Linked DNA regions of Homo sapiens: all the other regions are reported to be linked to region 4. Evidence: microRNA targets listed by miRTarBase, many of them from high-throughput screens and not tested one by one. Region 4 holds a microRNA gene; each other region holds the end of a gene's coding sequence.

Region 1 (6,125 bases), not on the chromosome of region 4:
GGTCTGGGGTAGAGGATTACGGATGAGCCCAGGGGAGTGGGCGCTCCAGGGGAGTGTCATTTCCGCCTCCCACGTTAATGTCCCCAGAATGCAATCCTCATGGAAGAGGTGTAGAACAACCAAGCAGTCAAGAAAACTCAGCCAGTTGATAGCTGGACTTCATCACCGGCCAGCCCAGAACTGGTGTGACAGGCACAGTGATGGAGGCAGGCTGTAGACGGCCCATTAGCATGGACTCCCTGTTAACCAAGGTCAACGGAGCTGTCACTGCCCCTGCATGTCCAACCTTCCTGCAACACAGATCATTGCTGAGCCCTGAAGTGGCATTGCTCTTTAAGGAGACCAATGGGCCACAGGACGGCCAGTCGACAAGTGGCAGGCTCCAGATGTAATTGCTCCTCTGTTCTGAGAAAATGGATCTGGGTCCTCTAAGTTGTTCCCCTGAGCCAGCGGGCTCTGAAGCTTTGTTGGGAGAGGGTGATGGAGAGACATTGGAGGAGGAAGAGGGTTTTGCTTCCTGACCCGTGCAGTGCAGACTGCTTCACAGGAGTGCTAAGGAGCACCAGCTTCCCAGCACCTCCCTCAGGGGGTTTTGCATCAGAGGCCTCTGGTAGGACACTTCTCTGTACAGTTTTCCCCAGGATGCCAGAGGGCAGGTTTCTAGCAAGTTCCACCAGCAGAGCACCACAGTGACTTCTCTGCCCTCCACTGATTCACAGCCATGCCCTCCCTACTCAATCTGGGTGTCAGCCCCAGGGGTGCTATGGAGGGCTCTTCTTTTTTTTTTTTTTTTCGAGACAGGGTCTTACTCTGTCACCTAGGCTGGAGTGCAATGGTGCAATCTTGGCTCACTGCAATCTCCGCCCTCAGGTTCAAGTGATTCTCCTGCCTTAGCTTCACTAGTAGCTGGGACTACAGACGCCCGCCACCAGGCCGGCTAATTTTTTGTATTTTTCATAGAGACGGGGTTTCACCATGTTGGCCAGGCTGGTCTCAAACTCCTGATCTCAGATGATCTGCCCACCTCAGCCTCCCAAAGTGCCGGGATTCCAGGCATGAGTCACTGCGCCCAGCCAAGGTTCTTCTTTGAGCTCTCAGTCTTAGTCCTAGTGGTGCAGGCTACTCCTGATATCTGCTATTCTCATGTTCAAGTTCTTTTTACTTCCTACTAGCCAGTCCTTCACTACTCCAATCTGCTGTGATAATCACTCTTCACTTTTAACTTGCCCTGTTCAAATTGCTGTGTGGTTTCTGCGTCACTCCTCATAGTGACAGATACCTCTTCCAGGCAAGAGTTTGTCTTTCCTGCCTGCAGGGACTCAGACACCATGACTATCTGGGGGCTATAGAAAGCCTGAACCATAGGCATGGAATCCCATGGGGCATAGCATCCAATCAGGTGACTCACCTCCCAGTGAAGGAGACGAAAGAGTGAGCCCCTGGTTGTGGAACCACTGTGTATCCACACCCCGCACCATCCATAGGCAGCCAGCCTCATAGAGGGCTTGAACAACCAAGACCCAGCTGAAGGGCCAGGATGGAGTGCTTGCTGTCTTCAAAGATGCATGTCCCCAGTAGGTTTGGGACCATGTCTGGGATCCGGTAGATGAAACTGGGAGTGGCCCTGCATTCCATCATTCCCAATGATCTGCTGCAGGATTTAAGGAGAATAGCAGCACTGGAAATCCTGGTGCCAAAGAGGGAGGCTCTTGCCAGGGGACATAAGGTCCCAGTGAGCTACAAACTATGACTGATGCTGGAACTGATCTCTGAACTCCCTTTGTCCAGGCACCAGCAGGAGGAGAGAGAGTTACTTTTACACTGTAGAGAATCCACATGACCCACTGAGCGCCTGCTGGTATTCCTGTGGGCCACTGTAAATGTCAATGCATACTTTCAGCAAGCCTGTCTTAAGAAAGCATCACTTTGCTGCAATCTGAGATGCCTCCTGCCCAATCCTCTCTCCCCTCTCTTTTACAGGGGTCAGCCTTGCAGCATGGTCTGAAGGCCATCGCTGCCTTCTCTGGCTCCCTGCCCTTATCCTTCATGGGCCTGGTACCCAATAAGTGTCATGCAAATCTCATTATGTCTGGGCACCTGCTTTTCAGAGGACCTGAACATAAGCCACAAAGCATAAGATTAGTGTGGGGGAGGTATAATGTTCACAAGGGTCATCTTTATCAACAAACTCTTTTTACATAAATATAGAATTTTCATTTTGTTTCCTGTCTTTCAGTTATATGCCGTGGACATCATGGCCTTATCCTTTATAGCACTCGTGTTCTCTCTCTTTCTCTCAATCTCTCCCTACTGTAAGCTCAGTAAGGACAAGATACATGTGTATTTTTTCACCATTGCATGTCTGACTCCTAGCATAATGCTAAATACATAGTAGGTGCTCCAAATTATTAAGCCTATTCAAGAACAGTCACTCTACAACAAAATTTACTAAGCGTAGTTGCAAAAGTACATTATTGACAGGATACTATTATGATGTACATAAGAGTCCTGGATAATAAATTCATAATTCTAAAAATATAGATAATGACCAGCTGTCCAGTGATAGTCTAAGAAGAAGCTCTAATAAGCAGTTGTACCTAAGTTTAGTGCTACATAGGCAGGTTCTGTCCCTTAAGCAGAAATAACTGGCAACGCTATGGAGATTTAAGGAGTCGATGGCAGTCATTAACACAGGTCATGTGAAAGCAAGCCCTGCCTTTTCCATCTTCTCCACCAACCTGTATTAGGGCCACTTTTCCCTCTAACATGGTTTGTAATTCTCAGTTGTTATGATATTATCAGTTCCAGAAGGCCACTGTTAAAGGGCTATCTGGGAGGAAAATGAAGCTTTCTGATCTTCCCACATTATTAGTATGAGCACAAAATTGAAGGACACACTCACTCTCAGGGGCAATTCTGCACTGGCACAAACCTGACAATGGAGAATAGCTCCTTAAATGCTGCACCCTGGGCACCTCATTAGCCTCTCCCTCGTGCTAGCCCTGCTTGGGAGCATGAGAAAGCTGCAGATTCTGGGTCCCAAACCCCAGAGCTTGGTAACTCACACACTTTAAAATGAGGGTAAATGACAGGCCGGGCGTGGTGGCTCTCACCTGTAATCCCAGCAATTTGGGAGGCCAAAGCGGGCAGATCACTTAAGGTCAGGAGATCAAGACCAGCCTGGCCAATATGGTGAAACACCATCTCTACTAAAAATACAAAAATTGGCCGGGCGTGGTGGTGCACACCTGTCATCCCAGCTACGCAGGAGGCTGAAGCAGCAGAATCACTTGAACCCAGGAGGTGGAGGTTGTGGTGAGCCGAGATTATGCTACTGCACTCCAGCCTGGGTGACAGAGTGAGACTCCATCTTAAAAATAAATAAATAAATAAATAAATAAAGTGAGTGTTAATGATAAAAAAAAGAAAATAGCTACTTCACCTCAGATACTTGAAAGAACTTTGATTAAGACAAAGAATGAACATATTCAATCTGCTAAAGGCATTTCTTCAATAAGGGTCTAACTATCAGACTGGAGCCACGGAAGGCAGAATATGGAACCCTAATACATTTGCATGCAACTGAAATTTTGTTTTTGCCTACAAAAGGAGATACATGGAAAAAAGGGAATACTTTGGACAGAAAATCAAGACACAAATCAGGCACTGCCAAAAATAAATCACATAAAACTTTTTCTTTGAATTAAGAGAATTTATACAAATTTGACTTCATAAACAAAAGAAACTATACATCAATAATTACCATAAGGCATTATTGCTCCTAAAGTATTTGCCACCAAAAATAAGTCATTGTATAATTCTAATTTTAATAATCTTAATTACGACACAATTTAGGTTTATTTTCTACCTTTATAATTTTGTTGTTGTTGTTTGTTTTTGTTTTTTGGGTTTTTTTTGAGATGCAGTCTCACTCTGTAGCCCAGGCTGGACTGCAGTAGCATGATCTCAGCTCACTGCAACCTCTGCTTCCTGGGTTCAAGCGATCCTCCTGCCTCAGCCTCCCAAGTACCTGGGACTACAGGTGTGTGCCACCACACCCGACTAATTTGTGTTTTTGTTTTTGTTGTTTTTCAGTAGAGACAGGGTTTTACCATGTTGGCCAGCCTGGTCTTGAACTCCTGACCTCAACTGACCCGCCTACCTCGGCCTCCCAAAGTGCTGGAATTACAGGCGTGAGCCACTGCGTCTGGCCTCTACCTTTACAATTAAATAATAAAATCTTCTGGGAGTTCATGATCCCTAGAATTATCATTGATTTAAAATTATTCCATTTTTCAAATACTTTTCTTAGAAATAAAAAGTAAAGTCATTAAAATATGTTAATTTCTGTTACTTATACATTTTTAAATCATAGGTTAAAAGACTCTGATTGGGACATAAGACTGTATATATTTCAGGAATAGTTTTTCCATAGATATAATTAATAACACTTAAAAATAAGAAAAATGTTTTCCATACCAACTATAAGCTTTTAAAAAGTACAGAAGCATATCCTCAAGATGTGAAGGCACTGGGGGATGGAGGACACCTTGTTTCCTCAGCTCAGAGCTTAGCTTTCTCCTTAAAGGTCTCCTTCATCTTTTTGACAACAGAAAGGTCCCCTGCTCCCTTGGGCCAGTTGTCATGATCTGTTAAAGAAGTGGAAAGCCTCCTGTCACTTGCAAATCTCATTTGCCCTCTTCACTCCCACCAAATCCTCTTGTTAATTTCCCTGGTTCACACATTTTCTCAGCACCAAAAAATAAATCCTTAGGGCAAACATTTGAGAAAAGACTTCAATTTGAATCTCAGGTCTGCCACACGTTAGCTTTCCTGAATTTGGGCACATGTCTCTTCCTGAGCCTCAGTTTCCTCCTCTATTAAAGGATACAACAATATCTACCTTTTAAAGTTGTGAGGGTTAAATATGACACCATGTGTGCAGTGCTTCGCATACTGTGGATCGTCAATAAATAGTGTCTCCTTAATAATCACAATTTAAAAATAGTGTCCTTACTTTGTACCAGGCACTGCTACTTGCCTCTCCAGCATCCAGGTCCCCATCTCTTCTTTCCAACAGCTTGTTTCCATTTAACGATCTAGAAGGTGCCAGGGAAGCTTGGCACCAAGGCATGTGGTCTAAGCTAAGTCAGTCAGTGCACTATAACCCCGCCACAGTTATTGGTTGGAAATGGACATTTGCATAAGTTGATCGAATATAGAGTGGATCTCAGAATTTTGTTAGAAATTCTGGAACAAAGTCACTCCTCCAGCCCTCTCTCTGTGCATCTGGGTATGAACACAGAAGTATCAGCCTTACACATAGAAACAGCAGGCAGCCATCCTGCAATGAGGAGAGCCTGCCTTAAGATAGAGCCAACACCATGGAGGCAAAAACAGGAAACAGGGGAAAAACTTGTCCTTGATGAGATCAGTGAGCTACTAAGTCAAGTCTTACCTGTTTTTCAGTTATGTGCCAGCGAATTCCTTTACTGATGAGCCCATTTTGAGTTGTGACTAAAAGCATCCAATTCGACAAATGACTTTATTTTTTTAATTTTTATTTTTTGAGACAGGGTCTTGCTCTGTCAGCCAGGCTGGAGTGCAGTTGTGCAATCATGGCTCACTGCAACCTCGACTTCCCGGGCTCCAGTGATCCTCCCACCTAAGCCTCCCAAGTACAGGCACATGCCACCATGCCAGGCTAATTTTTTAAATGTTTTGTTGAGACGGAGTTTTGCCAGGTTGCCCAGGCTGGTCTTGAATTCCTGGGATCAAGCAATTGGCCCACCTTTGCCTCCCAAAGTGCTGAGATTACAGGTGTGAGCCATGGTGCCCAGCCCCTGACATAGGGATTTAAATGTGCATTATCTAAGGCCAGGCACAGTGGCTCATGCCTGTAATCCCAGCACTTTGGGAGGCCGAGGCAGGCGGATCACCTGAGGTCAGGAGTTCGAGACTAGCCTGGCCAACATAGTGAAACTCCATCTCTACTAAAACTACAAAAAAATTAGTGGGGCATAGTGTCGGGCACCTGTAATCCCAGCTACTCTGGATCCTGAGGCAGGAGAATTGCTTGAACCTGGGAGGCAGAGATTGCAGTGAGCCGAAATCATGTCACTGCA
Region 2 (6,125 bases), not on the chromosome of region 4:
TCAGCATGCAAATATGAATGTACATTCTTTTTTCTTTTACAGGAATATTACACATTTGTGCCTTGCTTTTGTCACTTAATAATTTGTTACTTATATTAATAATTTGTAGTGTATCAAAATGTGTATGCAACAGATTTATAAACATAAGATTATAAATACTCCAAAAATACTCATTTGGTTAGAAACAAAATATTAATGTCACAGCAACAGTAAATTTATTTCTACATTTTATTGCAGGCTGTACTCTAAAGGCCTGTTGAGGTTAATCAGAACCTAAAAATGCTAGTAACATTTTTTTGTCTGGTACATGCTGAAAAAAAGCTACACAGTTCTACTTATTTCACTTTTTCCTTTGTTTCAGGGCTGTATCTTGTGGTTTTTATGCCATCCAGTTCTTGCATGCATTTCTGTCATTTTTAGCGACTACCAAAGAGACAAGGTAAGAAATATACATGATCAAAGTAGTTTTCTTAATGAAAATATTGTCTTAATTGGGAGAATATTTAAATAGGAGGGACCTATTTATTTTTTAAGACATTTTCTGGGTTATTTAAAACTTTGAAACAAAATAGTAAACCAATAAGCAGATAAATTTGAAGTTTAAAATATTTTTAAAATATTTATAAGCAAAATGGTGGAAATAGCTTTTCTTGATTGTACTACAATAGATAATTTTAAAATAGAAATTTTGTTTTATAAATTAGAGAATTTATAATACATCTTTTAAAAAATGATTAAAATTTTTCTTACATAATAGCAAAAATCAAGATTTGTAAAAATCAGTCTAGTTATTGAACAGACTACAAACCAGAGTGCCATGCTCAAGTATGATGCATTTTGATTGTGTTGATACCTACCTTCTTAGGTGAATGGCTCCATCATTTCAAAATAGAGGTCTGCCAGGAGCCCTTTACAAGCAATGCAGTATGTGCCTGAATGCACAAATGTTTATTGAGCCTGAGGTGTTTACAAAGGGTGAATAGATAGGACAGTAGTCTACAAAAATAGAGAAGCAACTTGAGAATTTTTGAAAGGGCTTTTAGAGTACTCTTTAAAGTTCAGGTAGGAGCGTGCTTTATTCCTGTTCCTAAATTAGCTAGGAACCTGATTTTTCTTATTTACTGAAACTTGTCTGTAGTGCATACCCTTAGGAGAGAATGGTTTAGCAAGTTATTCTTTTGTGCCTTACTTTGTCATCTACAAAATAACTGTTAAAGGGATTTTTATCCTTAAACAATTAGAGTTCTGAGCATTAGTCAGAAAATTTTTTTGATAAAATGTACCTATGGTAAAGATGAAAGATAGAGTATTGTATTTATATAAAAAGCATATATAGATTCATAATAAATTGAATATTATTTCTCTATTTCTGCATGTAGTAAAAGCATTCCTTTCCTTTTCTTTTCAGGTTATTACAATAGGTGTTATCCTTTGCCAGTCTGTTTCCATGGTTATTCTCTACAGACTCTTTCTGTCTCACAGTCTATACTGGGAAGTTTCTTCACTTTCTTCAGTAACACTACCACTGACCATATCATCTGGACACAAAAGTCGCCCTCATTTCTGATACTTGATTTTTGTTGAGAGGAAAAGTGAATTGGTTAAAAGAGTGCAATAAGGATCCAAATACAGTGACTTTTTTTTCATACATTTAGTATGAAAACTTGAACAGCGAAAGCAGAGCATGTTATTTATATAACTGCATTTAAGCAGTACCAAGACTGAAAAAAAAGGTAATAAATGAAATGTTTTGAAATATACTTAAACAACAAACTTTGAAGAAAGTGTTGTTATAAAATTATTGAAGCGATTTCTATGTGGAAATAAATGTGAAAAATAACTATGATATTTTGGTAAAATATTCACCACTTATAATGCCTCATCTTAATAGCTAACTCAGGTTTAATAGTCTTATAAAAAGTAATCAGTTAAATGATTACTTGCTTATAAATATCTAAACTAGTCCAGTTATGAAATCAGTGTAATACATTGATTTTTAAAACTGCTGCTTTTTATGCTTTAAGGAAAATGTATTTCATATTTGAGTTTAAAGGAATTGAAATTACTTCAGGAAATGAATATAAAATAGGTTCACAGTTAAATGAATAAGCTTTTGTTTATTTGTGGGTGGAGTTATTCTCCAATTTTTTCTGCCATTTTTGGCTCTAGTTCAGGTTTTAGCTTGATTAGCAAAGGTTTTTGACAAACAGTTTATGAAAAAATAAAACTTAAATACATTACACGGGTTGTAAGGACAAAGGATTTTAAAATCTGAGCACTTAGGTGAAGGGACAAGCAGGTTTATGTGTTTAAACAGAAAGAAGGGAAAAGGTACTATGTGATATGGTACTGAAATTTTGATCCCAATAGAATTCATTTCTCTTACGTTGAATCCCCAATCATAATTAAGCCGTATACACAGATTAAATTAACAGAAGCATTTCACATAAATGTTGGTTTCAGTCATCAACTACCCATGAATTCCTGCCCAAGGATACTTAATCAGGATTAAATTTTCTATGAATAATTGAAAAACAAAACACTCACTGGATTTGTTATAATCCGTGTTGGCACTGGATTCTAAGTAGTTGCCATCTTGAATCCTTTGTAATAAAGCCATACTTTTGTGTGTGTGTGTGATGCCCCAGTATTGAGTATGCTAGCTAAAAAATATCAAGTGCCTGATTAAAGAATTGCTAAATGGTTGTCAATACTCGCTGTATAAAATGAGTATTCCCATTAATAGTCACTGATTGGAAATTATTCTGTTGCTGTTTGTCAAGCTGTTCAGGCCTTTTCCTTTTTACTTCTGGCTTATTTTAAAAATATTTTTTATCTATTTACTGTGTGTTTAAGCAAGCAACAGTGCACTGATCTGGTAGTTAAATTTTTTAATTAAATAGTTAAAATAATGTAGTGCAACTTAAAAATATCTATGGCTTTGTTTTTGTTTTTCTTTTGTACCTAGTCTCATTGGAAATGACTAGTATTCTGCCTCATTTTCAGGGCAGAATATGTGTTTGTGACCCAAAATGACAAAGTTACCAAGTTCAACCTGCTCATTAAATCATCTCTCTATTAGTTCTTTGTAAATCACTTAGTACATTAGAGCTACAGGTTAAGACTAGAAAGTCTGAGTTATGTTTTAGGTATACATGATCGTCTGAGTGGTCATAACCTTTTCTTTTATCATGTCTCGCTAATAACCCCAGCTATTGTCTGTTGTGTTCAGCTGAGATGCAAAAAAGAAATTAAGCAAAAAAGAAAAAGATGAAGACTTTTCATGAATTTTGTGAACTTGCCAAAAGGGGAAGGGAAAAATCTTTGTGTTACTTCACTCAAAGAACATAAGTAACTGCAATTAACATATATGAAATTTATTACTCTGCTTGCATTTATGAAACTAACCAGTTTTTTAAACTTTAATTCTTAAATTTATGGTTGGAAATGCTGATAATTTATTTTGTTATTTAAGAGCTGTTGTTAAGTGGAGGAAAGTAGTTGTTAATAAATGTATAAAACTGTTCTTGACTAGTAATCAGGGACAAAATTTATAGTTCATAAGTCATGACACAGTATTCGCTCTTTTTCTGAATGTTTACATAGAGATTCATCACTGCAGATTACAGAAAGTTAAGTGTATACTACAAACTCTAATTAAAGATAAAAATCTTTTCTACTTTTCTTTGTCAGATAATGCTTTTTTATGTGTTTTTACATTTTTTGAAAGAAGATAAATGGTTCATCCAGAGCTTTATTAAGAAGCATTTCTTTTCTTCCCTTAAAAAATAGATGCTTATTTTTATTGACATGTGTATAATAAGATGGGTGCCTACTGTGATGCATTTTACCAGGCATTTTACCTTCATTATTACTCATCTCTATTGTGATAACCAGGCTCCCATTTAACTGAGTATAAGAGAGAATAAATGATTTCTCTAAGGTCATCAAACTATTTAGTTTTTCCACTTTACCTTCATGATTTAAGGAACATGTATTAGCTGTGTTTTAGTGAGAATGAATTGCTATCCATCATAATTTTTGCTGTTGATTTGAACATTAAAACTGGAATTGTGCTAAAATCAGAACATGCGCTTGAATATCTGTAAGACCTCAGCACACTTCAGTATTTGAACCTGGCTTTTAACCAGACAGTATTACTAGCAGGAGAGTTAATCTAGGCAGAAGAGCTTGCTTTAGGGTAATTATTTATTATCTCCAGTAAAGTCACATCTGATGAACATAGGAGATACACAAATCTGAGATCATCTCTAAAATAATGAGACTAGAACCTATCTATCAACATGAACATGGGCTCCTTCAGCATGTTTCTTCTAGGAGACTGCACGTTCTTTGGAATTTGGAAATTTGGAATTATCTGTGAAACATTTTCTTAAATAGCTTCTGTGGTATCAAATCATTGAGGTTGTTTTTTGTTTGTTTTGAGAATTGATATGATTGTTAGAAGTAGCCAGATACGAAGAGGTAATACTGTTTTTTATTCCAACATGTATTTGTGAATTGAGACTAAAATAATGAGATTGGTTTTCCTCTGTGATCTGAAAGTAGTGTGGTAGAAGCACCGTAGCTTGATTTCTTGCAATAGCTCTCTAAGTAATATTACCATGTCCACACTTGGGCAGCCTTCTGCACAGCTCCAGGGGCATCATATGTGTTGTGCTGTAGGAGTGCCATGAAGCCTGGAGGTGAGGAAAGAAGTGATCCTGCCCACTAGGGCCATTCTCCACAGTGTAGCCAAAACAATCTCTTAAAAATGGAAATCATCTGGATGATGAGCATACAGAAATTCTTTGTGCTAATCTTGTAATTTTTTTGTAAGTTTGAAATTATTTCAAAAAGTTTAAAAATCATATAAATCAGATCAAACTACTACTTCCCTGACAAAAACCCTCCATGTGCCTCTCATTGCACTTAGGAAAAGAAGTCCTCACTCATTACTATGTTCTGCAAGGCCCATATGATCTGGTTATCTCTTAATTTGTACCACTCTCTCACACACATATCCCAGCCTCATTGTCCTTCATCAAAAAAAGATCTAGCTTATATCACACCCTCAGATACTTGGCACTAGCCATCTTCTCTGCCTGGGACATTCTCTTCCAAATCTTAGCATGGTTGGAAGGCTGAATCCTCATCCTTCAGGTTCTCAGCTGAGATGTCTTTTAGAGAACTCACCATCTGTGGTGGATTTATATGGTGCAGTTTAGTCAACCTGGAGATAGGTTCTGCAGAATTCTCTTCCATGCATAATTTCAGGACAATGTAGGCCATAAGAAATGTTTGATACAAGATATAGAAGGCAGAAGTAAAGTAGCAGCCAGATCTGCATTCTTTTTGTAAGAGGAAGGGCCAGACAAGGCACAAGGCACAAGGCACTGTTGCAGCTTATCCACATTATTGCTTATCTGTTGGCTTCTCTTGGCCTGTGGGACAACAGCCAGGCCCACAGGAACACCAGTTCCTGCCGGAATGGCTCCTTCAGCTTCTCTGGCTCCTGGGCCAGGTGTGCGTTTTACTCTGACAAAGGGTGCCAGCTTCTGCTGGACAACTCCATCATTCACACTGGAGGATTAGAGGCAGGGAGAGACCTGTATGGCTTCCAGTCCATCCTCACAAGTTCCACTCAGTTCCCACAGGTTCTACTCATCCTAGCAAGTTCCTTGCTTCCCCCATTTCCCATGTCTTCCCTTTCCAACTGCCAGACACAAAAGAAACCGCCTCCTATAATCCCTATAATAAGCCCCTTATTTTGAATATTAAGATATGTGTATGTGTATTAGATCCTAGTGGTTCTTTTCTGATCAGACCCTGATTAACCATACCATCCTACCTAATGCTATTCCCCCATCCTAGTTCTATCATATTATCCCTTTTTTTGTTTGTTGTACTTAGCTGGTTTATCTTTGTCATCTCTCAAATTAGAATATAAATTTTAAGTGAGTTTGTCTCTATTGTTCATTGCTGTATGCCTAATACTAGGACACTCCCTGGTGCATACTAGATGCTCAAAAATATTTTTGAGTGAATGAAGGCAATGCTGAAAAAGTTCCAAATCTGTACTTAACAGTGTAGTATTAATTATGTAATAGAAGTACCCGTAGTGA
Region 3 (6,125 bases), not on the chromosome of region 4:
TTCTTGGAGCAAAAGATTGATGAAAGTAAAGAGGTAGAATTAGGCAAAAGAAATTATTTCTAAAATTATTGAAAAGTAGGGATTATAGCAAATATTTTCTTCTCTTTTGTGCTGTGTCATTGGGACTTCAGCAAATTGGAGCCAGAGAAAGAAGGATCATAGTGCGGCCACAATAGCAAAGCAATGGATTTTATCTCTCTAGTATGTAATCTTGTTAGGATTCCCCAGGGAGATGGGAAGAAAAATAGCAGAAATAAAAAAAGAGCAAAGGGACCTTCAAGTTAGGGGAATAATGTTTGGTAAACAACTCTGTCCTCCACTCTCAGTGTGCATTCAACCAAGCACAGTGCATAGAGACAGAGGCAGTATGAGATGTGGGCTGCCTAGACATTTTTAGAAATAAGTAGGTATTTAAATAATAATTGTTAAATTGATTTACAAAATTGGGAGGTCATATGTCTTTTAGATTTGATTCTATTAGCGACTTAGCCACATTAAAAGTGTTGACACAGTAGCCTTGTAGTATAGTTTGAAGTCGGGTAGTGTGATGCCTCCAGCTTTGTTCTTTTGGCTTGATACTGGTACCAAAACAGAGATATAGATCAATGGAACAGAACAGAGGCCTCAGAAATAATGCCGCATATCTACAACTATCTGATCTTTGACAAACCTGAGAAAAACAAGCAATGGGGAAAGGATTCCCTATTTAATAAATGGTGCTGGGAAAACTGGCTAGCCATATGTAGAAAGCTGAAACTGGATGCCTTCCTTACACCTTATACAAAAATTAATTCAAGATGGATTAAAGACTTACATATTAGACCTAACACCGTAAAAACCCTAGAAGAAAACCTAGGCATTACCATTCAGGACATAGGCATGGGCAAGGACTTCATGTCTAAAACACCAAAAGCAATGGCAACAAAAGCCAAAATGGACAAATGGGATCTAATTAAACTAAAGAGCCTTCTGCACAGCAAAAGAAACTACCATCAGAGTGAACAGGCAACCTACAAAATGGGAGAAAATTTTCGCAACATACTCATCTGGCAAAGGGCTAATATCCAGAATCTACAATGAACTCAAACAAATTTACAAGAAAAAAACAAACAACCCCATCAAAAAGTGGGTGAAGGACATGAACAGACACTTCTCAAAAGAAGACATTTATGCAGCCAAAAAACTCATGAAAAAACGCTCACCATCACTGGCCATCAAAGAAATGCAAATCAAAACCACAGTGAGATACCATCTCACACCAGCTAGAATGGCAATCATTAAAAAGTCTGGAAACAACAGGTGCTGGAGAGGATGTGGAGAAATAGGAACACTTTTACACTGTTGGCGGGACTGTAAACTAGTTCAACCATTGTGGAAGTCAGTGTGGTGATTCCTCAGGGGTCTAGAACTAGAAATACCATTTGACCTAGCCATCCCATTACTGGGTATATACCCAAAGGACTATAAATCATGCTGCTATAAAGACACATGCACATGTATGTTTATTGCGGCACTATTCACAATAGCAAAGACTTGGAACCAACCCAAATGTCCAACAATGATAGACTGGATTAAGAAAATGTGGCACATATACACCATGGAATACTATGCAGCCATAAAAAATGATGAGTTCATGTCCTTTGTAGGGACATGGATGAAATTGGAAATCATCATTCTCAGTAAACTATCGCAAGAACAAAAAACCAAACACTGCATATTCTCACTCATAGGTGGGAATTGAACAATGAGAACACATGGACACAGGAAGGGGAACATCACACACCAGGGCCTGTTGTGGGGTGGGGGGAGGGGGGAGGGATAGCTTTAGGAGATATACCTAATGCTAAATGACGAGTTAATGGGCGCAGCACAGCAGCATGGCACATGTATACATATGTCACTAACCTGCACATTGTGCACATGTACCCTAAAACTTAAAGTATAATAAAAAAAAAAGTGTTGACACATGAAGGCATCATTTATGCCCATGCTTGCATTATTTTAGTGCATTTTAACATTAGTATACACTTTTATTTTCCCACGTAGTAGCGCAAATGAGATACTACTTCTCTTAATTCAGGAGGCAACTTACAATTCCCATTCAATTTATAGTATTTTTAATCAAAATATTTTCTCCTAAGAAGTGTGCTCCTGTAATGCTACTTGATGATAACCCAAAAGAATCATAAAAATAAGTTGAGCTTTCCAAGGTAATCTACAAAGCAGAATTGTAGCACGCCAAAAACTGGGTGCTCCCAGGTTCAAGACAGTTTTGAATCTTGGCTCTACCATTTACTTGCCATAAGAACCTAGGGAAATTACTGAATCTCTCTGTGTTCTTGATTAATCATCAAGGCGGTATTTATACCTCTCCTGCTGGGTGAGAAAGCTCAGTAAATAAACTAAGGGAGATCATCTACAAGTTAGTTCATGCTCAATAATGCTAGCAATATAGTCCAAAATATTCTTTTTGTTGGTGAGAAAAGTGGAGCCCAAAACAAAACATAGCAAAGAGAAGTAGAGGCTGGCCTAACTCCCAGTTCTAACCAGACCCTGAAGGAAGGCTTTCACCTAACCATATCACAACCAAGACAAAGTAAAGACAACTTTCTCTTCATGTGAGACCTTCAATCAAAGATCAAAATCTTCATGATTACCAACAACCTAAAATACGCTTAGTTTTACATTTCCTAAGAACAGATCACGTGACTTCCTCTCCTTTCAAAGGGACATAGCTATTCTTCACACAATTTCCACAAGTTGTGTATTATTAATAATGAAGTAAGAGTCACAGCTCAGGGTATAACTCTTATAATGAGTTGAAGCAGAAAAGTCCCCAAACAAATGGTGTGGGTAGAGGGACACAGGAGAGGCTGGGTCACTCTCAGGACAGGGTTGTGAAATCCATCTTTTGGGAACGGCAGTTGCCCTGAGCAAGGGCTCCTCTTTCCACATTTGTAGTCCCCCACTGGAGTTCAAATTAAATTAGGTCTCACTTAAATTGGGTTTTCTCCCATTACATTAGCATTTCCACAATCTTGCCAACGTTTGGCAACTTGCTAATTAGTAAGAGGATGACTTTGGACTGGAGAGTTAAATCACATTTGCCTGCTGCTAAATAGGCCTGGGCCTGGCCTCTCAAGGAGTACTTTCTTGGGTGTTCGTTCAGTTTTTATCCCAGTGGGCGTACCTCAGTTGGCAAATTAAATCCACCACAAGAAATTGACATCACAATGACTTTTTCACTAATCTGAAATGCCAAAATGTTTCCATTCCTGGGTATTACTTCAGTATAGGTGAATCAGGAAAACAACAGTTAACAAGTCAGCAGCTGACTTATACTTACGCTTATACTTATACTGAAGTAATATCCAAGAATGATTTGTCTCTTTGATAAAGAGTAACAGAAACAAGATTCAGAAAATTAATGTAAGACAAGGATAATTCTTTGTCAAGAATTATGTTCCAGGGTTGCAAAGGGCTGAACCTGAAAATATTTATTTTCCTAAGGCTCTTTCATCTTCCCATTATACAGAGCTTCAGGTGTATCCAGATACTGGAATAATAATAATTTGAGCTGGAATAAAGTAGCATAATTTTTGGAAGCTGAAACTGGATAATTTTAGCAGTATGTTTGGATTGTTTTCTTCAACTGCATTTTCAGCTTTGCAGTTGCTTTAGGTTTACTTCTAGAAGCATAGATATCCAAGGATCTCACATTTCTTGTTATATGTATATATATATATATGTATATACATATAAATGTATAATTTGAGATCATATTTGTGAGAATATACATATATACACACACATATATATGTATATATGTATACAGAGGATCACGAAGAGGATCTCAAGTTAGTCCTAGCAGAATTCTTATTAAATGGATAAACTTAATACTTCTAAATCTGCTTAATCTTTAGACATCTGTCATGTCACTATAAGATTTAATTGCAATAAAATTTCAATAAATTCCATTTTCATTTTAATTGGCTTGAGAAGTCAGAATTAAGTTTTTCATTAAAATTAATCAAATCCAAGGGAAGGAAAAACACAGATTTAACTATAAATCCATATGTCTGAAATATTTCTGTAAGTATATATGGACACAGCATAGCCATATAGCCATCATCATCCCATCAGGACTTTGTCTTCCTTTTTTTTTTTTTTTTTTTTTTGGTGGTGTGGAGTGGGTGGGTAGGGGGCACTGAGTCTTGCTCACTCTATTTCCCAGGCTGGAGTGCAGTGGCGATCTCAACTTACAGCAACCTCTGCCTCCCTGGGCTCAAGTGATCCTCCCGCCTCAAGCCTCCTGAGTAGCTGGGTTTATAGGTGTGTGCCACGAGCCTGGCTAATTTTTGTATTTATAGTAGAGATGGGGTTTCACCATGCTGGCCAGGCTGGTCTAGAACTCCTGGCCTCAAAGCAATCCACCTGCCTCAGCCTCCCAAAGTGCTGGGATTATAGGCATGAGCCACTGCACCCAGCCCAAGACTTTATCTTTCATAATCAAGTCTTGTGATGCAGGCGCACAATTTCTCATCATCTTAAAGAAATGATCTGTCTAAGGAATAGCTTCCAATTAACCATCTTATTCAGATTGAACCACTTATTTAATTTAATGAGGTATATACACCTCTTCAATTCTACGTTTAGGATCACTGAGGTCAACAATATGTAGTCAAATAGCTAAAGAACTAAGGCCCTGTGGAAGAAGAATGGGAGCAATGTTAAACGTTTACAACTGCAGAAATTTTTACCCCAGGAAACACACACACACACACACACACACACACACACACACACATATGCACTTTAAATCAACATACAATATCCCTGCAGCAAACACTGAGTTGCCTAAATCATAGAATCATTTTTGTGCATCCAACAGCAATATGCTGAAGAGATTTTCAGGGAGTCGTGCATCATCCATCTGCCAAGTCTCATTTCAAGGAAACTGGAAGTTGTATTTGGTTGTATAATAACTGGCTCCTCCAATTTGATCAGGATCTTAGCTGTCAGAAGCCTTTTCCTGTATTCATACCAAAGGAAAACATGACCAGGCACAAATAACAGGGTAGATGATGTGCCTTTGTGGCAGAAACAAGCCTCAGTATAAACAAAGAAGAGGGTCCTCAGCCACGCTCCCTCGTTGCCTGTTGTCTCTCTCTGTTAGTGTGTACTTCTACGGATGGACTTTCTTTACTGAGGATAAACCTATGGAAAACAGTAGGAAAATGTTTTAGATTAAAAATTAACATTTCATTTCTCTTCTTCTGGCTTAAGGCTGACATAAAGTTCCAGGATGGCAAAAAAAAAAAAAAGTTATGTTATATTCATAAGCTCCCCACAAGTTTACACTGAGAAATCAAGAAGCGGGAGATGGAGGGTTATTATTTTAAGCATTGACATATGCTTACCATTTTGTGAAATAAGTTGTGGCCTCGTTCTAATTATGCCTGAGGAGGAATGTTCTATACTAATTCTCACTCTTGCTGGCATTTTGGCTTGGGCATGTGAAAGTAAGTCATATATATGACTTAGGTTAGGTTCAGTACTTACCCCAGAGAAAGAAAACTTGCCAAATATGATCTTTTAATATATGGTACTGGGTACATTATTGCCAAAGCTATGGAAAATATCCTATAGAAAGACTTGTTGGTGTATCATGAAGACCAATATGAAAAATCTGGAATATTTTGATTGAGTACTATTTGATAATGAATACTACATGAAAGACAAAGTCAAATAAGTTTACTCATGGCAACAGGAAAAAATAATCATAGAAATGCCAAGAAACAAAGAGTTATCCTTATCCCTGATAACTTAAAAATATGCTGAATGTTTTGTACTTGTTGTCCTCATTTGGTATACCAAAGATGTGCTAAACTAACATTTTGGTAACAGAAAAAGCAAATAGGAAGATAATAAGTTACTTTTCCAGGCTGAAAAATTATGTTGCTGAGGACTGTGGTCACTATGTTAAAAAGGTATCTAATATGTTGAGAACATAAATTTGAACTCAGAAGCATAAATTAATTGATCTAACCAATCTGAAGTTAACATTAAATAAATCCACTAATGATACCTCTCCCTAGGTATCTTAAATATTTTAAAATTAACTC
Region 4 (6,125 bases):
CATCCCATGGTCTGTGTAAAAGTTAGCATGCTCTTTCTCTTGATATTTTCCCCTTAACTTTCTCCTTCAATTGGAGTACTTGGTTTTCAGTCCTCCAGTCATTACTCTGTCTCTGCATGCTGTCCTTGTGCTGTCCTGACTATATTTTTTGGTTTTAAAATCTAGGATCTTCAAGTCTATTTACTTCAAATTTACCATGGTTAAAATTGAGCTAATTTCCTACCTTCTTTAAATCTCTTTATGATTTCTCCTTACCTCTGAGTAAATGGTGTCATAACCACCACGTTCAGGGGGCTGGAAACCCATGAGTCCTCGTGCATTCTTCCTCAACATCCAATCCTCAAATTCTATTGGTGTTCATTGTTTTTTGTTGTTGTTGTTTTTTGTTTGTTTGTTTGTTTTTATCTTCACTGCCACAAGTCTGATTTTATACTCTCATTTTTCACATGAAAATGGCAACAGCTTTCTAACTAGCCTCTGCTGTCTCACCACTTACCGAGAAAACATCCAAATTCCCTGGCACTCACGCATGGCCTTTGACAACATGGTCCCTGCAAGTCCGATCTTTCCTCAGTTTTCTGGATCTCTCACCAGGTCCCCCCTTTTACCTGTTCTCTGGTGATAATGAACTTCCAGGAGTTCCTGGATCTTCCATACTTCTTACTTGCTCACCCTTCTTTCTCTTTCTCTCTTTCTCTTTGGAATGCCCTGTTTTAATTGCCCACTTGGAAAGTTCCTTTTCATCTGTTGTATCACTAGTTCCACTCCTCTACCCCACACTATGCATTAATGAAGGTCCCTTGGAAGGTCCCTATTATGTGGCCCATGCCCTTTGAGCAAATGCTACCTTGATGTAAAACTTTCCACAAAGAAGTTAATGTTGGTAAAGTGCCACTCGGAAATTAAAGCACAGTGCTTTGAAGAGTTAAATCCAATGACCTTGTAAAGAACTGGAAATTGTTAACAATGGTGCTGTCTGTCAAGGCTGGCATACTAGAGAGGCTCCGTGTGGACACCAAGATCTGAGCTCGTGAGGTAGGTGGGAGGGGGAGGCATGGTGATTATGGTAAATAGGGGGGCCCAGACAAGATGAGTCTTTCTGTCTCAGGAAGGAAAAAAAGATCACTGAAGAGTAAAGCTAGGGTACAGAATGGCAACACCAAGTTTAAGTGTTGATGCAAGGGTTGATGGCAATGAGATGAAGCTGAGCAGGGAACCAGGTAGAAATGGAACTGAACAGGTGCAGGGAGGCAATGGAGCAAAGAGGTTTCTGGGCCACTCTCAGGATCAGTCATGAAATGTCCTTAGCTTCTCATTTTTGTTGGAGGATATGTGGAGGCATAGAGCTTGGTCACATTGAGCTGACGCAAGTCACTGATTCCTGCAACCTCTAGTGATGCATTTCCAAACTCAGGTTAAAATGAAGGTCAAGAACTCCTGTTTTGCCATTTCTAAATTATTGGGATTAGGCTATGAGCTTATTTCGAGGTATTTTTCAGTTCTGCTATGCTATGACTCTGATTTTGTTTTTATTTGGTAATCTTATATGGACAATAATTGCATTTTGCAAATTTAAAAGTATCATGCCAACATGGTTTGTCTGTTACTTAGCTTTCATTTTTCTTTTAATGTTGGAAAATTGTGATACAAATTTATAGATCCTAAATTAACAAATTACTCAAGACTTTAGAATTTCTTAAAATGTTATGGTATGCTTTTTTTTTGAAAGCTCTACATTTTATAAAACCAAATTTGTCATACGAAGTTTTAGGTATCAAGAAAGAATTCTGTGGATTTTTGTGTTGTCAGGGTATCTTAGATTGTAATTTTATGTATTTTCCTTTTGGTACCTCATAAAAACTAGAAGGGCTTTCTTGAACTGCATACTTTGTCAATACAATTTGATGATGGAGAAAGACATTTAAGTCCAGAACGATTGGTGTAAAGTACACTGGGTGAGACTGTATAGTTGAATTTTCCAGATGATCGAAAATTGACAGTAAAGAAATATATACAAAATAGATTTTGAAAGAATTGTTGAATGTTTACCTGTCGCTACATATTATCTTGGATACAGTACAGATAATCCGAATGGAAAATTGCACTGAAAATGTCTTCCCCTGAGTTATATTTGCTGGTTCTTACATAAAATGTTATTTATACAACAGATTTTATTGTATCTTCTCTTGCTTTACTCCTTTATCACCTTCTAGCTAACTGTCCTGACTTCAGACCTCTGTTAGATCTGCCAGATGTGCTCTCCTGGCCCATGAAATCAAGCGTGGGTGAGACCTGGTGCAGAACGGGAAGGCGACCCATACTTGGTTTCAGAGGCTGTGAGAATAACTGCAATTTAGAGGGAATACCATTTATGTTTATGCAGGACTTCCAGAGAAAAAACAAAATTTATTATAGACATAAAGAATAAGAGATGAAATTCATGATTATATTGCATTTCTGTTCCAATGGGATTAAAAAAAAAAAAACACGTATTCTAAGTAAGTTGAACCAGGTTGACAGCTAATGATTTGATGTCTCTGTTAATGATTTTAAAACATTGTACAAATCCAAAACTGTTTACTCCTTCAAGGTATACCTCCTTTTCTCCCACTTCTCCAGCTATTGTGGTCCATTTGCCCTTGCTCTGGGCTAGTTCCTTGGTAACTAACAGAAATGGATGGACAGAGATGCCATGACAGGAGTATGGATTTTGCTGGGTCCTCATTTATGCTGGGGCATCTATCAACTCTTTTTCCAACATATTTTTGTTTCCCACACAGCCCCACTCACAGATGCTTGCCTATAGGGCCAAAAATCTCTAGTTAGCAATCTGCCAGAGTCCTGCTTTTTTGTGTAGGAGATTGGAGTTCTTTCAAATAACCCATCTGGTAAGATGTAGAGAAGTAGAGAAACTGAGGTAAATAAAATGTATATTGTTAAGTACTTTATTGCATACTTTGTACCTTTGCTGATAATTAATTTATAGACTATATCTGTTGAGCTGGTGTTGGTTAAGGTTGTATTTGCTTGTTTGTTTGTTCTATACTCTTTAAAAACTTTTGTGGGTGGGTAGGGAGGGTATAATGGTGTTGATGTATGTTGTCATCCCTTAGGCCAGAGGAACCATTTCACAATTACTTTTTATTTTCTCAACAAGAATTCTGAAGGCCTGTATCTTTGGCACAGAAAATTAAGCTATAAAGGCAAGTTCTGCCAAGTATATATTACATATCTCCTGGCCATGGATTTTGGTAGGCTGTGAGAAAAATATGAAAGTCATTTCCAAAGATTTATTTTGTATTTCCTTAATTGACTTTCATATTTGTAATACATTTTCTATTTATAAATGGTATTTCTTTGTTCCACTTAAGGTACCTTAATTTATAAACACACAAAATTAATCAAGGACATTTCCCCATTTTGTTAGGTTCTGAGAAGAATAAACCAAATTCTTCGCCAAGGCTTTTCCTTTTTTGGAAAATGCATTGGATAAACATGGTTTTCTTTGAATTATCTCAATGAAAGAGCTTCTCCCTGGACATTCTAAAGAAGTGCTGTCTGGTAGATTTTTCTGTGTTGACAGAAATGACCTACAATCTGCACTAATTTGACAGACATTAGCCACAAGGCACTTGAAAAATGGCCAATGAACTAAATTTTTAAATTTATATAGCAGCGTGTGATCAGTGGCTACTATATTGTAGAGCATAGTTCTAGAGTACTTTAGTTATTTAGATAATTTTTTATAGATTACAAGTTTACCAAATTCATCTTTATCAATTCTCTTATGAATTTGCTAGGTTTTGGTTAGTAGCTTAAGTTTATGTATTTTAGAGCAGTTTTAATACATCACCATGTGTTTTGACTTAGTACTTTTAGGCTGCTACTAAACCAAACACAATACCATAAATTGGATAGCTTATATAATTTTTTTCTCACAACTCTGGAGGCTGGGATTTCTAAGAACAAGGCACCAGCAGATTCATTGTTCAATGAGGGCCTGTTTCATGGTTCCTAGATAATATCTTCTCACTTTGTCCTTACGTGATAGAGAGGGCAAGCAACTCCTTCAGGCCTCTTTTATAGTGGCACTAATTCCATTCTTGAGGTGTCTGTGCCCGTGACTTAATCACCTCCCAAAGGCCTCCCCTCCTAATGCCATCAACTTGGAGGTTAGGATTTCAATATACAAATTTTGGGGGCAACACAAACATTCAAACCATAGCATTCTTATACAATAAACTACTCACAAAATAGAGAGTTAACTAAAACAATTCTCCAAGTTTTAAACAATTTATATGGTTGCCACTTTATTTTCTATGAAAACAAATTAAATTTCTGCTGAAAGCTAAAAGCTGGCCAATTACCAAGTGATCCCACAGTTATTGAGTGTTACTACTTGGACAGCATTAAATAAACCATTCTTTAAGTTACAGAAAAGATTTGAGGTGATTCCTCTCTTCAGCCATCCTACAGTCTTGATAGAAAGGCAAAACTGGCAGTTATGAAATAATTAAAAATAAATCAGTGCTAAACTCTATTATGTAAAATAGGAGTATAGATGAGGGAGAGATCAGTGTGGATCATAGTAGCCAATCTCTGCACTTTAAAGTTAAAAGGACCCTTAGAAATCATTCATTTGGAGTTTTAGAAATCATGAAATTGTATTTTATCAGGTTTACACACTCAAGATTTCACAGCCAGCTAATGACATGTCCAGTGCTTGAATAAAGGTCTCTTAACCCTCAATTTCGTGATCACTTTTTACTAGTTAGCCTTATACCTCCTCCTGGAGGAGTTTGTCCTTAACAATTCATTAAAAGATAGCTTGGGGTCAGCAATTATAGACCGAGTTCTATTGCAAATATCAGTTTCATCTAGCAGAGTGTTCCCCAAATTTTCGTTGTTTACTCAACACATTCATAATGTTTTTTTCATATCCTTCTACCATTTGTACTATTATTTATCCTTTTTTTATTTGAAATTCATTAAAAGGAAAATGAAAGGCCAGAATTATTTGTCATAAGTAAAAGATAACTAGGAAGTAAACACCTGAAAAATAAAAGCTAAGCTATAAATTCCCAGCCAGGCACTTTGTCTGCCTAAGCCAGAGGCCTGTTCTCTTTCTTATAAAGGAGATTAGTGAGTAATGGAAAAACATTAGATGCCATAGTCCTACATTACTATAAAGAGCAATCCTTTCCTTCACCTCCAGTTTCAAAATTGTGAGATTTACAAGGTCCAACTGTGGAAGCTAATATCTCCTATTGACCTCCCTGTGGCTGTTTTGTGACTGCCTTAGGAAGAAATTAGCCATGGACCTGCAGTTCTGCATGAGCTCATGTGCATGTCTGCATGAATTTGTGTGTCTGTATTGGTTGGTGGCGGGGGTTAGGGAATGGTGGTTACTTTTTAAATTATGCAATAATGGCGTATATTTCCTGATTTTCTTTCTTCATTAAAACAAAGCTCTTTTGAACTGGTTGCTTTTGTCCTTTACAAGGGAAAGTAATTGTATAGTTAATCCTATTTGTTTCTAATGTAATTAAATGGAATTTAGATAGATTATCTCTCCATATACAAACATGCAATTCTTATCATTTATAAAGCAAAAAAATAAAAACCCTTTTATTGTTTTTGGTGGAGCAGTCGGGGCACATTAGTAACTCTGGCTTATGTAAGAATGACATGCATTTTTCTCTTAAAGATGAAGAATGCTGTCAAAATATACTTTTAAAAATTAAGAAAAGTAAATGATTCCTACAAATATCAAGTGAGGATATTTCACAGCTTATTTAACCCATTGATGAGAACCCTCAGTATGGTGACTCAGTTTTAAAGAGACTTTGAAAAGCAGATATTTGTATAGTTAGTTTGGAAAAGTGTGATGAAATATGTTTGCTGAGTTAGAGAAAATGCTCATTAATGTCCCACAGGATAATAAAATCATAACCTTTGAACATATATTTTCAACCAGAGAGGAAATGGTTTGTATCACTACCAGACAAAAATATACAAGTTAAAAGTACCCAGAACAACTCTGGGTACTTACCAATAGTAAATGGTAAGTAAAACAATGATGTATTTTCTGGTTCTTGGGAACCCAGGTAATTTTTCCCCTTAGG
Region 5 (6,125 bases), not on the chromosome of region 4:
CAAACACATTTCAGCTGAAGGGCAGGAACAAGAATTGGCAAATAAGCCCTGTTCTTTTTTTTTTTTTTTTGAGACAGAGTCTTGCTCTGTAGCCCAGGCTGGAGTGCAGTGGCGTGATCTCGGCTCATTGCAACCTCCGCCTCCCAGGTTCAAGCAATTCTCTGACTCAGCCTCAACCTAGTAGCTGGGATTACAGGCGTCCACCACCATGCCCGGCTAATTTTTTTATTTTTAGTAGAGACGGGGTTTCACCATCTTGGCCAGGCTGGTCTTGAACTCGACTTCATGATCCACTTGCCTCGGCCTCACAAAGTGCTGGGATTACAGGTGTGAACCACCGCACCCGGCCAGCCCTGTTCTTTATACTTCCCCCGAGTGTTCCTCTTCTGCCTGGCTGCCACCCCCACCTCCCCAAGCATTTTGTAACATCTAGTGCATCTTCCCTCATATGTAAGAAATAAGCAGCCAGGCATGGGGGCTCAAGCCTGTAAGCCCAGCACTTTGGGAGGCTGACGTGGGTGGATCACCTGAGGTCAGGAGTTCGAGACCAGCCTGGCCAACATGGTTCACTCCATCTCTACTAAAATACAAAAATCAGCTGGGTGTGGTGGCACATGCCTATAATCCCAGCTACTCAGAAGGCTGAGGCAGGAGAACTGCTTGAACTTGGGAGGTGGAGGTTGCAGTGAGCTGAGATCGCACCAGCCTGGGCGACAAAGCAAGACTCCATCTCAAAAAAAAAAAAAAAAAAAAAAAATCTGTGTGATTCTTTTTTTCTATCAGGTATCAGGTTCATAAATGGGGAAGTTTAAGTTTTTTTTTTGTTTGTTTTTTTAAAAAGGCATTCGCTGAGGCTTATGAGATTGGGGACTAAGGCCTAAAAACTATTTCTTATTTCTTTTAGTATAATAAAGAGAGTCTTTTTATTTTTACTGATACATTGATAAATATTTGCGGGAGACACAATAATAGCTAACTCCCACATTTAGTAAATGCTTCTTTAATTGCAGCGGGACCCTTCTGAGACAGTGTCTGTGAATGATGTTTTGGCCCGAGCTGCAGCCAAGGGTCTGCTGGATGGGATTGAGTTGGGTAAATCATCAAAACGGGAGAAGAAGAAGAAAAAATCAAAAACATCATTGACAAAAGGTGCCACTACTGATAATGGCATCCAAATGAAAATTGCTGAGTTCCTGAATCGAGAAACTAAAGCCAGTGCTAATCTATCAGAGACTGTAACAAAACCACCTCTTCCCCAGAAAAATACTGCTCAAGTGGGGGCTTCCTCACAGACCAGAAAACCCAACAAGCTGGCCCCCCATCCTGCAGTGCCTGCATTTGTGAAGAACACTTGTCCCTCCAGACCGCGTGAACGGCAGACACACTTCTTAAGACCTCGGCCAGAAGACAGAATGGTTGCTCTGAAACCCATCAAGATTGTTCTGCCTCCAGTCTTTATGCCATTTTCAAGTCCCCAAGGGATCAGATCTCGGATGCCAACTCAACATTTGTACTGTCGTTGGGTTGCACCCAAGGCACTTGTGCCCACCTGCCTTCCCACACACTCACTATCCAGAAAAGAGGAAAAGCCTAAAGATGACACACCTTCCTCCCTACTCAGGCCTCCTCGGCGATGGCTTTGATTGTCTTGTGTTTTTTATAGGGGCCAAAGAGCAGTTGATTTTTTTTCAAAGTCTAGTATTTCTCTGAAGATTCTACATCTCTACACAAGATATTCATTCTTTTGGTCACCTAGGGATCTTCTAAGTGTGATATTACTTTCAGAGAATTCAGACAAGTGAGAAACAATAATGTAGGAGTCAGCAAAGCAGAATTCAGAGACTTCAGCCAATCACTGCTGCTCTGAGAGGATCCAGTTAGAGACTCAGTATCAGCGGTCAGAACTTATCTCACTCCTGTGAACTTTCAGGCTGGACTTAAAGCTGCCAAGTTTCCCCTGCAGGGAAGGAAACACTGCCTCCCTTCAGCAGGTAGCTCATTAGAAAGCCAAACAGGCAAACGATCCTGGCCTCTCCCGCCAGCTGACCGCTCTTCAGCATCCATGCGGTTGTAGTCGTGACTTTCTCAGTCACGATCAAGGGTGATTTTTTCTTAAATATCAAGCTGTTCTTTGAACAGGGAATGAACATGAGTTTTTGTAACGTGACTGAAGTTGAGTTTAAGTAGGAAGCGCAGGAAGTTCCCAAGTGCCAGGTGTGTGTAGCTCAGAGTTCCTTTTACAGTGAGGTGTCTCTCACTGGGGGAGCTTCCAGGATCCTGAGCAGACTGGACACAATCATCTCTCCCTTCCTCTATGTCAAGCACTGTTACAAAAGACTGTGAGCAAATTTCCATCTAAATATTAATAATTCTGAAGAAGAGGCAAAACTGTTGAATGCAAGCGATACCTATTGTTGAAGAAACCCACAAATTTCTGATTCTAAGATCAGGGGATACAACAAAATCTACAAGTCATTTCAAATAGCACACAGGAATCAAACTTTGGTAAATCATTTCTGAGGCACAATTAAATATATTGTAGCACTATGTTAATTAATTATATTAAATGTCGATTCATCTTGAATGTATTCTCAATTGCCTACCAAAAATTGGTATGATTATCATTTCTGGGTCTACTGATTTTTCATCATGGCAACAGAAATTGTCATTAAATAGAATTAAGATACAACTATATATCTTATTATTTAAAAACATTCATAGACATATTCATAAAGTTTGAATTTAAAGTTTTATTTTTGCAATTCAGTTGTATAGAAATGTTACATAAATTCCTAAATGCTCAATTCAGGTGGCATGATTTTTAGAATATTATCTTCTTCAAGATGAATACTTAGGTCTACTTCAGCTCTGATATTCTATTTTTACTTTCTTACTTGAAGTGAGAAAAGAGAATGGTGAATTGTATTATAGCGGTAATACATTATTTTTATTTTAGCTTAGATTTACATTTATCAGTAAAACGTGTCAGTGGGCTGGGTGCAGTGGCTCACATCTGTAATCTCAGCAGTTTGGGAGGCTGAGGTGGGCACGCCACTTGAGCACCGGAGTTCCAGACGAGCCTGGACAACATGGCGAAACCCCAAAACCCCATCTCTACAAAAAATACAAAAATTAGCTGGGTGTGGTGGGACACGCCTGTAGTCCCAGCTACTTAGGAGGCTGAGGTACGAGGATCTCTTGAGTCCAGGAGGTGCAGGTTGCAGTGAGCCAATATTGCCCCACTGCACTCCAGCCTGGGAAGCAGAGTGAGACCTTGCCTCAAAAAAAAAAAAAAAAAAAAAAAAGTGTCAATGAAGAAAGGAAACAAGACTTTTTATAGTTGAACCAGGCTTATTGTATTTTAAATCCCTGAAGAAGAATTCTTCATGTTATCACTCTTGTACAGAAAGATATAAAGTGCTCAGCTTATTTTGCTGATTTTGAAAATCAAACACTATCTCCTTGCCCTAAAATTATAGCGTGTGGCTCATCCTCTTATCCCACCCAGATTTCTATCTGGTTGGTTAGGGTAGTCCATGCCTCAAGGAAGGCGGTGCAGCTTAATTTAACATATTGTTCAGTAAAGAATCCCATTGTGTATCATAAGAATCCCTTATCCTTTTCGGGCCCTCCACCATACCAGACTGAAAAGTATTCCATTGTCCAGAAGTAGCTGGTCTTGAGATTTTTATTTTCAAGTGTATTTTCTGTGATGTTGTCTCATTGTTATGGAATAGTTTAGGATAATTTTCTGATCTCTACAGTAGCATGTGAAGTCACAATTTGTTGCCACTTACATTGATTATCTCCTAACATGCATTTGGCACTAAATTATTTTTCTCTTTAGAAGTATATGAAGATTCTGAATTAAACCATTCATTAATTACACTGCAGTTTTCTTCTTTGAGAATCTTCTATGAAGGACAGGATTATTTAAATACTTTGGTAGAGTGAAAAGGGAAAAGAATTTTGGATAAAAGCAATATGAGGCCGGACGTGGTGGCTCACATACTTTGGGAGGTTGGGGCGGGCGGATCACCTGAGGTCAGGAGTTCGAGACCAGCCTGGCCAACGTGGCGAAACCCTGTCTCTACTAAAAATATACAAATTGGCCAGGCGTGGCGGTGCATGCCTGTAATCCCAGCTACTCAGGAGGCTGAGGCGAGAATTGCTTGAACTTGGGAGGTGGAGGTTGTGGTGAGCTGAAATTACACCACTGCACTCCAGAGTAAGACTCCTCTGTCTGAAGAAAAAAAAAAAAAGCAATATGAGGGAATTCTAATGAAGGAGAATATTGATTCCACTGACATGTTTCATTTGGCATTTTACATTCTTGGACTTCTTCTTGAGATAAAAGTGCTGCAAAATTCTAAATAATGAAATTACTAGTATTCAGATACTCCAATAGCAAACACATTTTTAATCTGAAATTATTTACCACCATATAATGCCTGAAACCATAATGAAATTTTGTTACTGACTAGAGAGAAACCACTGTGGAAGTGCAAGATGAACAAAAAGCGGGGACATACTTTAAATTCTGTTTATCTGCCTTCCTGCGCCTAACAGTTAAGCTAAACCAGATTCAACTGATTTCTCTAGTTACCTTTCATTTTGGATTTAGTGTGTGTACACCTCTATTCTTTATTCTTTGATGTCAGGTTCTTAAAGGAAGTGATAAACTTCTTCGTGCTAAAATATCACAATCCTAGCAAGACCGCTTACAAAAGACTCGAGTTGGTGACTAAATAGGCTTCTATGTCCGGAAGGCCAGCTGGCCTTCCTGATCACCAAATAAGTACAGGGTGATTACTCAAAATTTGAAGTTACTTCCTAGTTCTTACCAGGCAGAAATATGTAGTAACTAATCAAAGCAAAATGCTCCATTACTAAAGTGATTTCTAAGAAGTCTGAGGTAAGAATAATTTAAAAATAACTAGAGACACCGAGTTTCTATTTCTATTCCTTGTATATGTGACTAAGATGTCAGATAAATGAGCCGAACGTTTTATGCAGCTAAATTTATTCTCACAACAAATTACATTTAAATGTGTAAAAGTGGTCAACAGGAAAAGGGCATAAAGGAAAACAAAGCGTTCTTTCAGGGGAAGTAAGCTGCTCTGGAGGCCAGGAACTACTGCTTGCGTTGACACGGTGTGAGTGGGTATCTTTGCCCTGAAGCTGAAGTTAAACTTTCTACTGGCCGTGTGGCACACACGTTAGATGTGTATTAGGTTAAGCCTGGCCAACTAGAGAGCGAAGGGGCTTATTAGTTAAATTGTGCTAATATCAGTTAGGAAAATGCTTGTCATGTTGTGGTGAAATCTTGAGGAGTTTGTGTTGCAATGCCTGGGACATGAACGGGCCATACAAACAGAGGAAAGCTCTGGGGCTTCCAGGCAATGGCCTTGTGTCGAGTCATCTTACAAGTGTCCATCTTGAAATCATAAAGTGGATTTAAAAAGAAGTAGCAGTGCCACAGTTTATCACCAAGAACTTATTTTAATGGAAATGGGTCTAATGTCCCTTCATGCAACAAGACAGATGAACAAAAAACAATGGTCCTAATTAGCTATGAGTGATCTTGTATCCAGGTGGAAACAAAGGGCATGTGTACATGTATATATCTCTTAGATGAAATCACACATGTTGTGAAGGGTAGAAAAACGAAGCACCAAGCAGTGCTTTAGTCTGCAAAGGAAAGTTTTTAGCCATAGGCATGTTGGCTAGTCGTTCCCCTTGATGTTGCCAAGGAGCAGATGTATGAGGTGGCAAGTCTGTGTCTATCTAGCTGCTTTTAAAAAATAAAAGGAACTTTAAGCATTTTGCCTTTTCTTCTACATATCCCAATAGAAATGTGACTACAAATCATTACAAAACCACTTTTTAGGCAATGTATAGTTCACTGAGATTACTTAGATCTGGATACACTGGGAGATAATATCCAGGAAAGATAATACATTAACACAATAATGCAGTATATTTCAGTAAAAATAGAATAAATAAAATAAAAATATTTTAAGCTGTATTTAACAGGTTAATTAAAAATATGGTAAGACATAGAAGGCATCGTGAACATGGCTGCCTGTTTACCGAATCACAGATCTAAAGAATGCATAGATAAC

Evidence for each region. The annotated mature microRNA hsa-miR-551b-5p reads GAAAUCAAGCGUGGGUGAGACC and lies in region 4 at 2,272-2,293, shown strand. An mRNA with a match to its seed (bases 2 to 7 or 8) in the 3' UTR can be bound and repressed. Matches are read on the target gene's strand: a 7mer-m8 pairs with bases 2 to 8, a 7mer-A1 pairs with bases 2 to 7 and ends in A, and an 8mer does both.
Region 1: miRTarBase lists PECR as a target of hsa-miR-551b-5p. Seed matches in the 3' UTR shown: 7mer-A1 at 4,366-4,372 and 7mer-A1 at 3,677-3,683.
Region 2: miRTarBase lists GPR180 as a target of hsa-miR-551b-5p. Seed matches in the 3' UTR shown: 7mer-m8 at 1,571-1,577, 7mer-m8 at 1,990-1,996, 7mer-A1 at 3,980-3,986, 7mer-m8 at 4,048-4,054 and 7mer-m8 at 4,590-4,596.
Region 3: the mRNA of TNIP3 is a reported target of hsa-miR-551b-5p. Seed matches in the 3' UTR shown: 7mer-A1 at 4,859-4,865 and 8mer at 4,817-4,824.
Region 5: the mRNA of NSUN7 is a reported target of hsa-miR-551b-5p. Seed matches in the 3' UTR shown: 7mer-m8 at 1,678-1,684.

Annotation. Positions count from the first base shown.
Region 1 is chr2:216,034,712-216,040,836 of GRCh38, forward strand. PECR (peroxisomal trans-2-enoyl-CoA reductase) reads right to left here. Exons shown (of 8, transcript NM_018441.6): 8 at 3,677-4,649. The coding sequence ends at 4,564. Among named protein-coding and RNA genes, the nearest start is that of MREG, 24 kb to the left of the region's middle.
Region 2 is chr13:94,625,605-94,631,729 of GRCh38, forward strand. It overlaps GPR180 (G protein-coupled receptor 180), which reads left to right. Exons shown (of 9, transcript NM_180989.6): 8 at 362-439; 9 at 1,409-6,125. The coding sequence ends at 1,567. Among named protein-coding and RNA genes, the nearest start is that of GPR180, 27 kb to the left of the region's middle.
Region 3 is chr4:121,127,446-121,133,570 of GRCh38, forward strand. It overlaps TNIP3 (TNFAIP3 interacting protein 3), which reads right to left. Exons shown (of 11, transcript NM_024873.6): 11 at 3,963-5,217. The coding sequence ends at 5,186. Among named protein-coding and RNA genes, the nearest start is that of TNIP3, 34 kb to the right of the region's middle.
Region 4 is chr3:168,549,604-168,555,728 of GRCh38, forward strand. It overlaps MIR551B (microRNA 551b), which reads left to right and starts at 2,251; the gene lies at 2,251-2,346. It also overlaps the pseudogene EGFEM1P.
Region 5 is chr4:40,807,297-40,813,421 of GRCh38, forward strand. NSUN7 (NOP2/Sun RNA methyltransferase family member 7) reads left to right here. Exons shown (of 12, transcript NM_024677.6): 12 at 1,011-3,888. The coding sequence ends at 1,643. It overlaps APBB2 (amyloid beta precursor protein binding family B member 2), which reads right to left. Exons shown (of 18, transcript NM_004307.2): 18 at 2,731-6,125. Among named protein-coding and RNA genes, the nearest start is that of NSUN7, 60 kb to the left of the region's middle. RefSeq lists an enhancer at 370-870.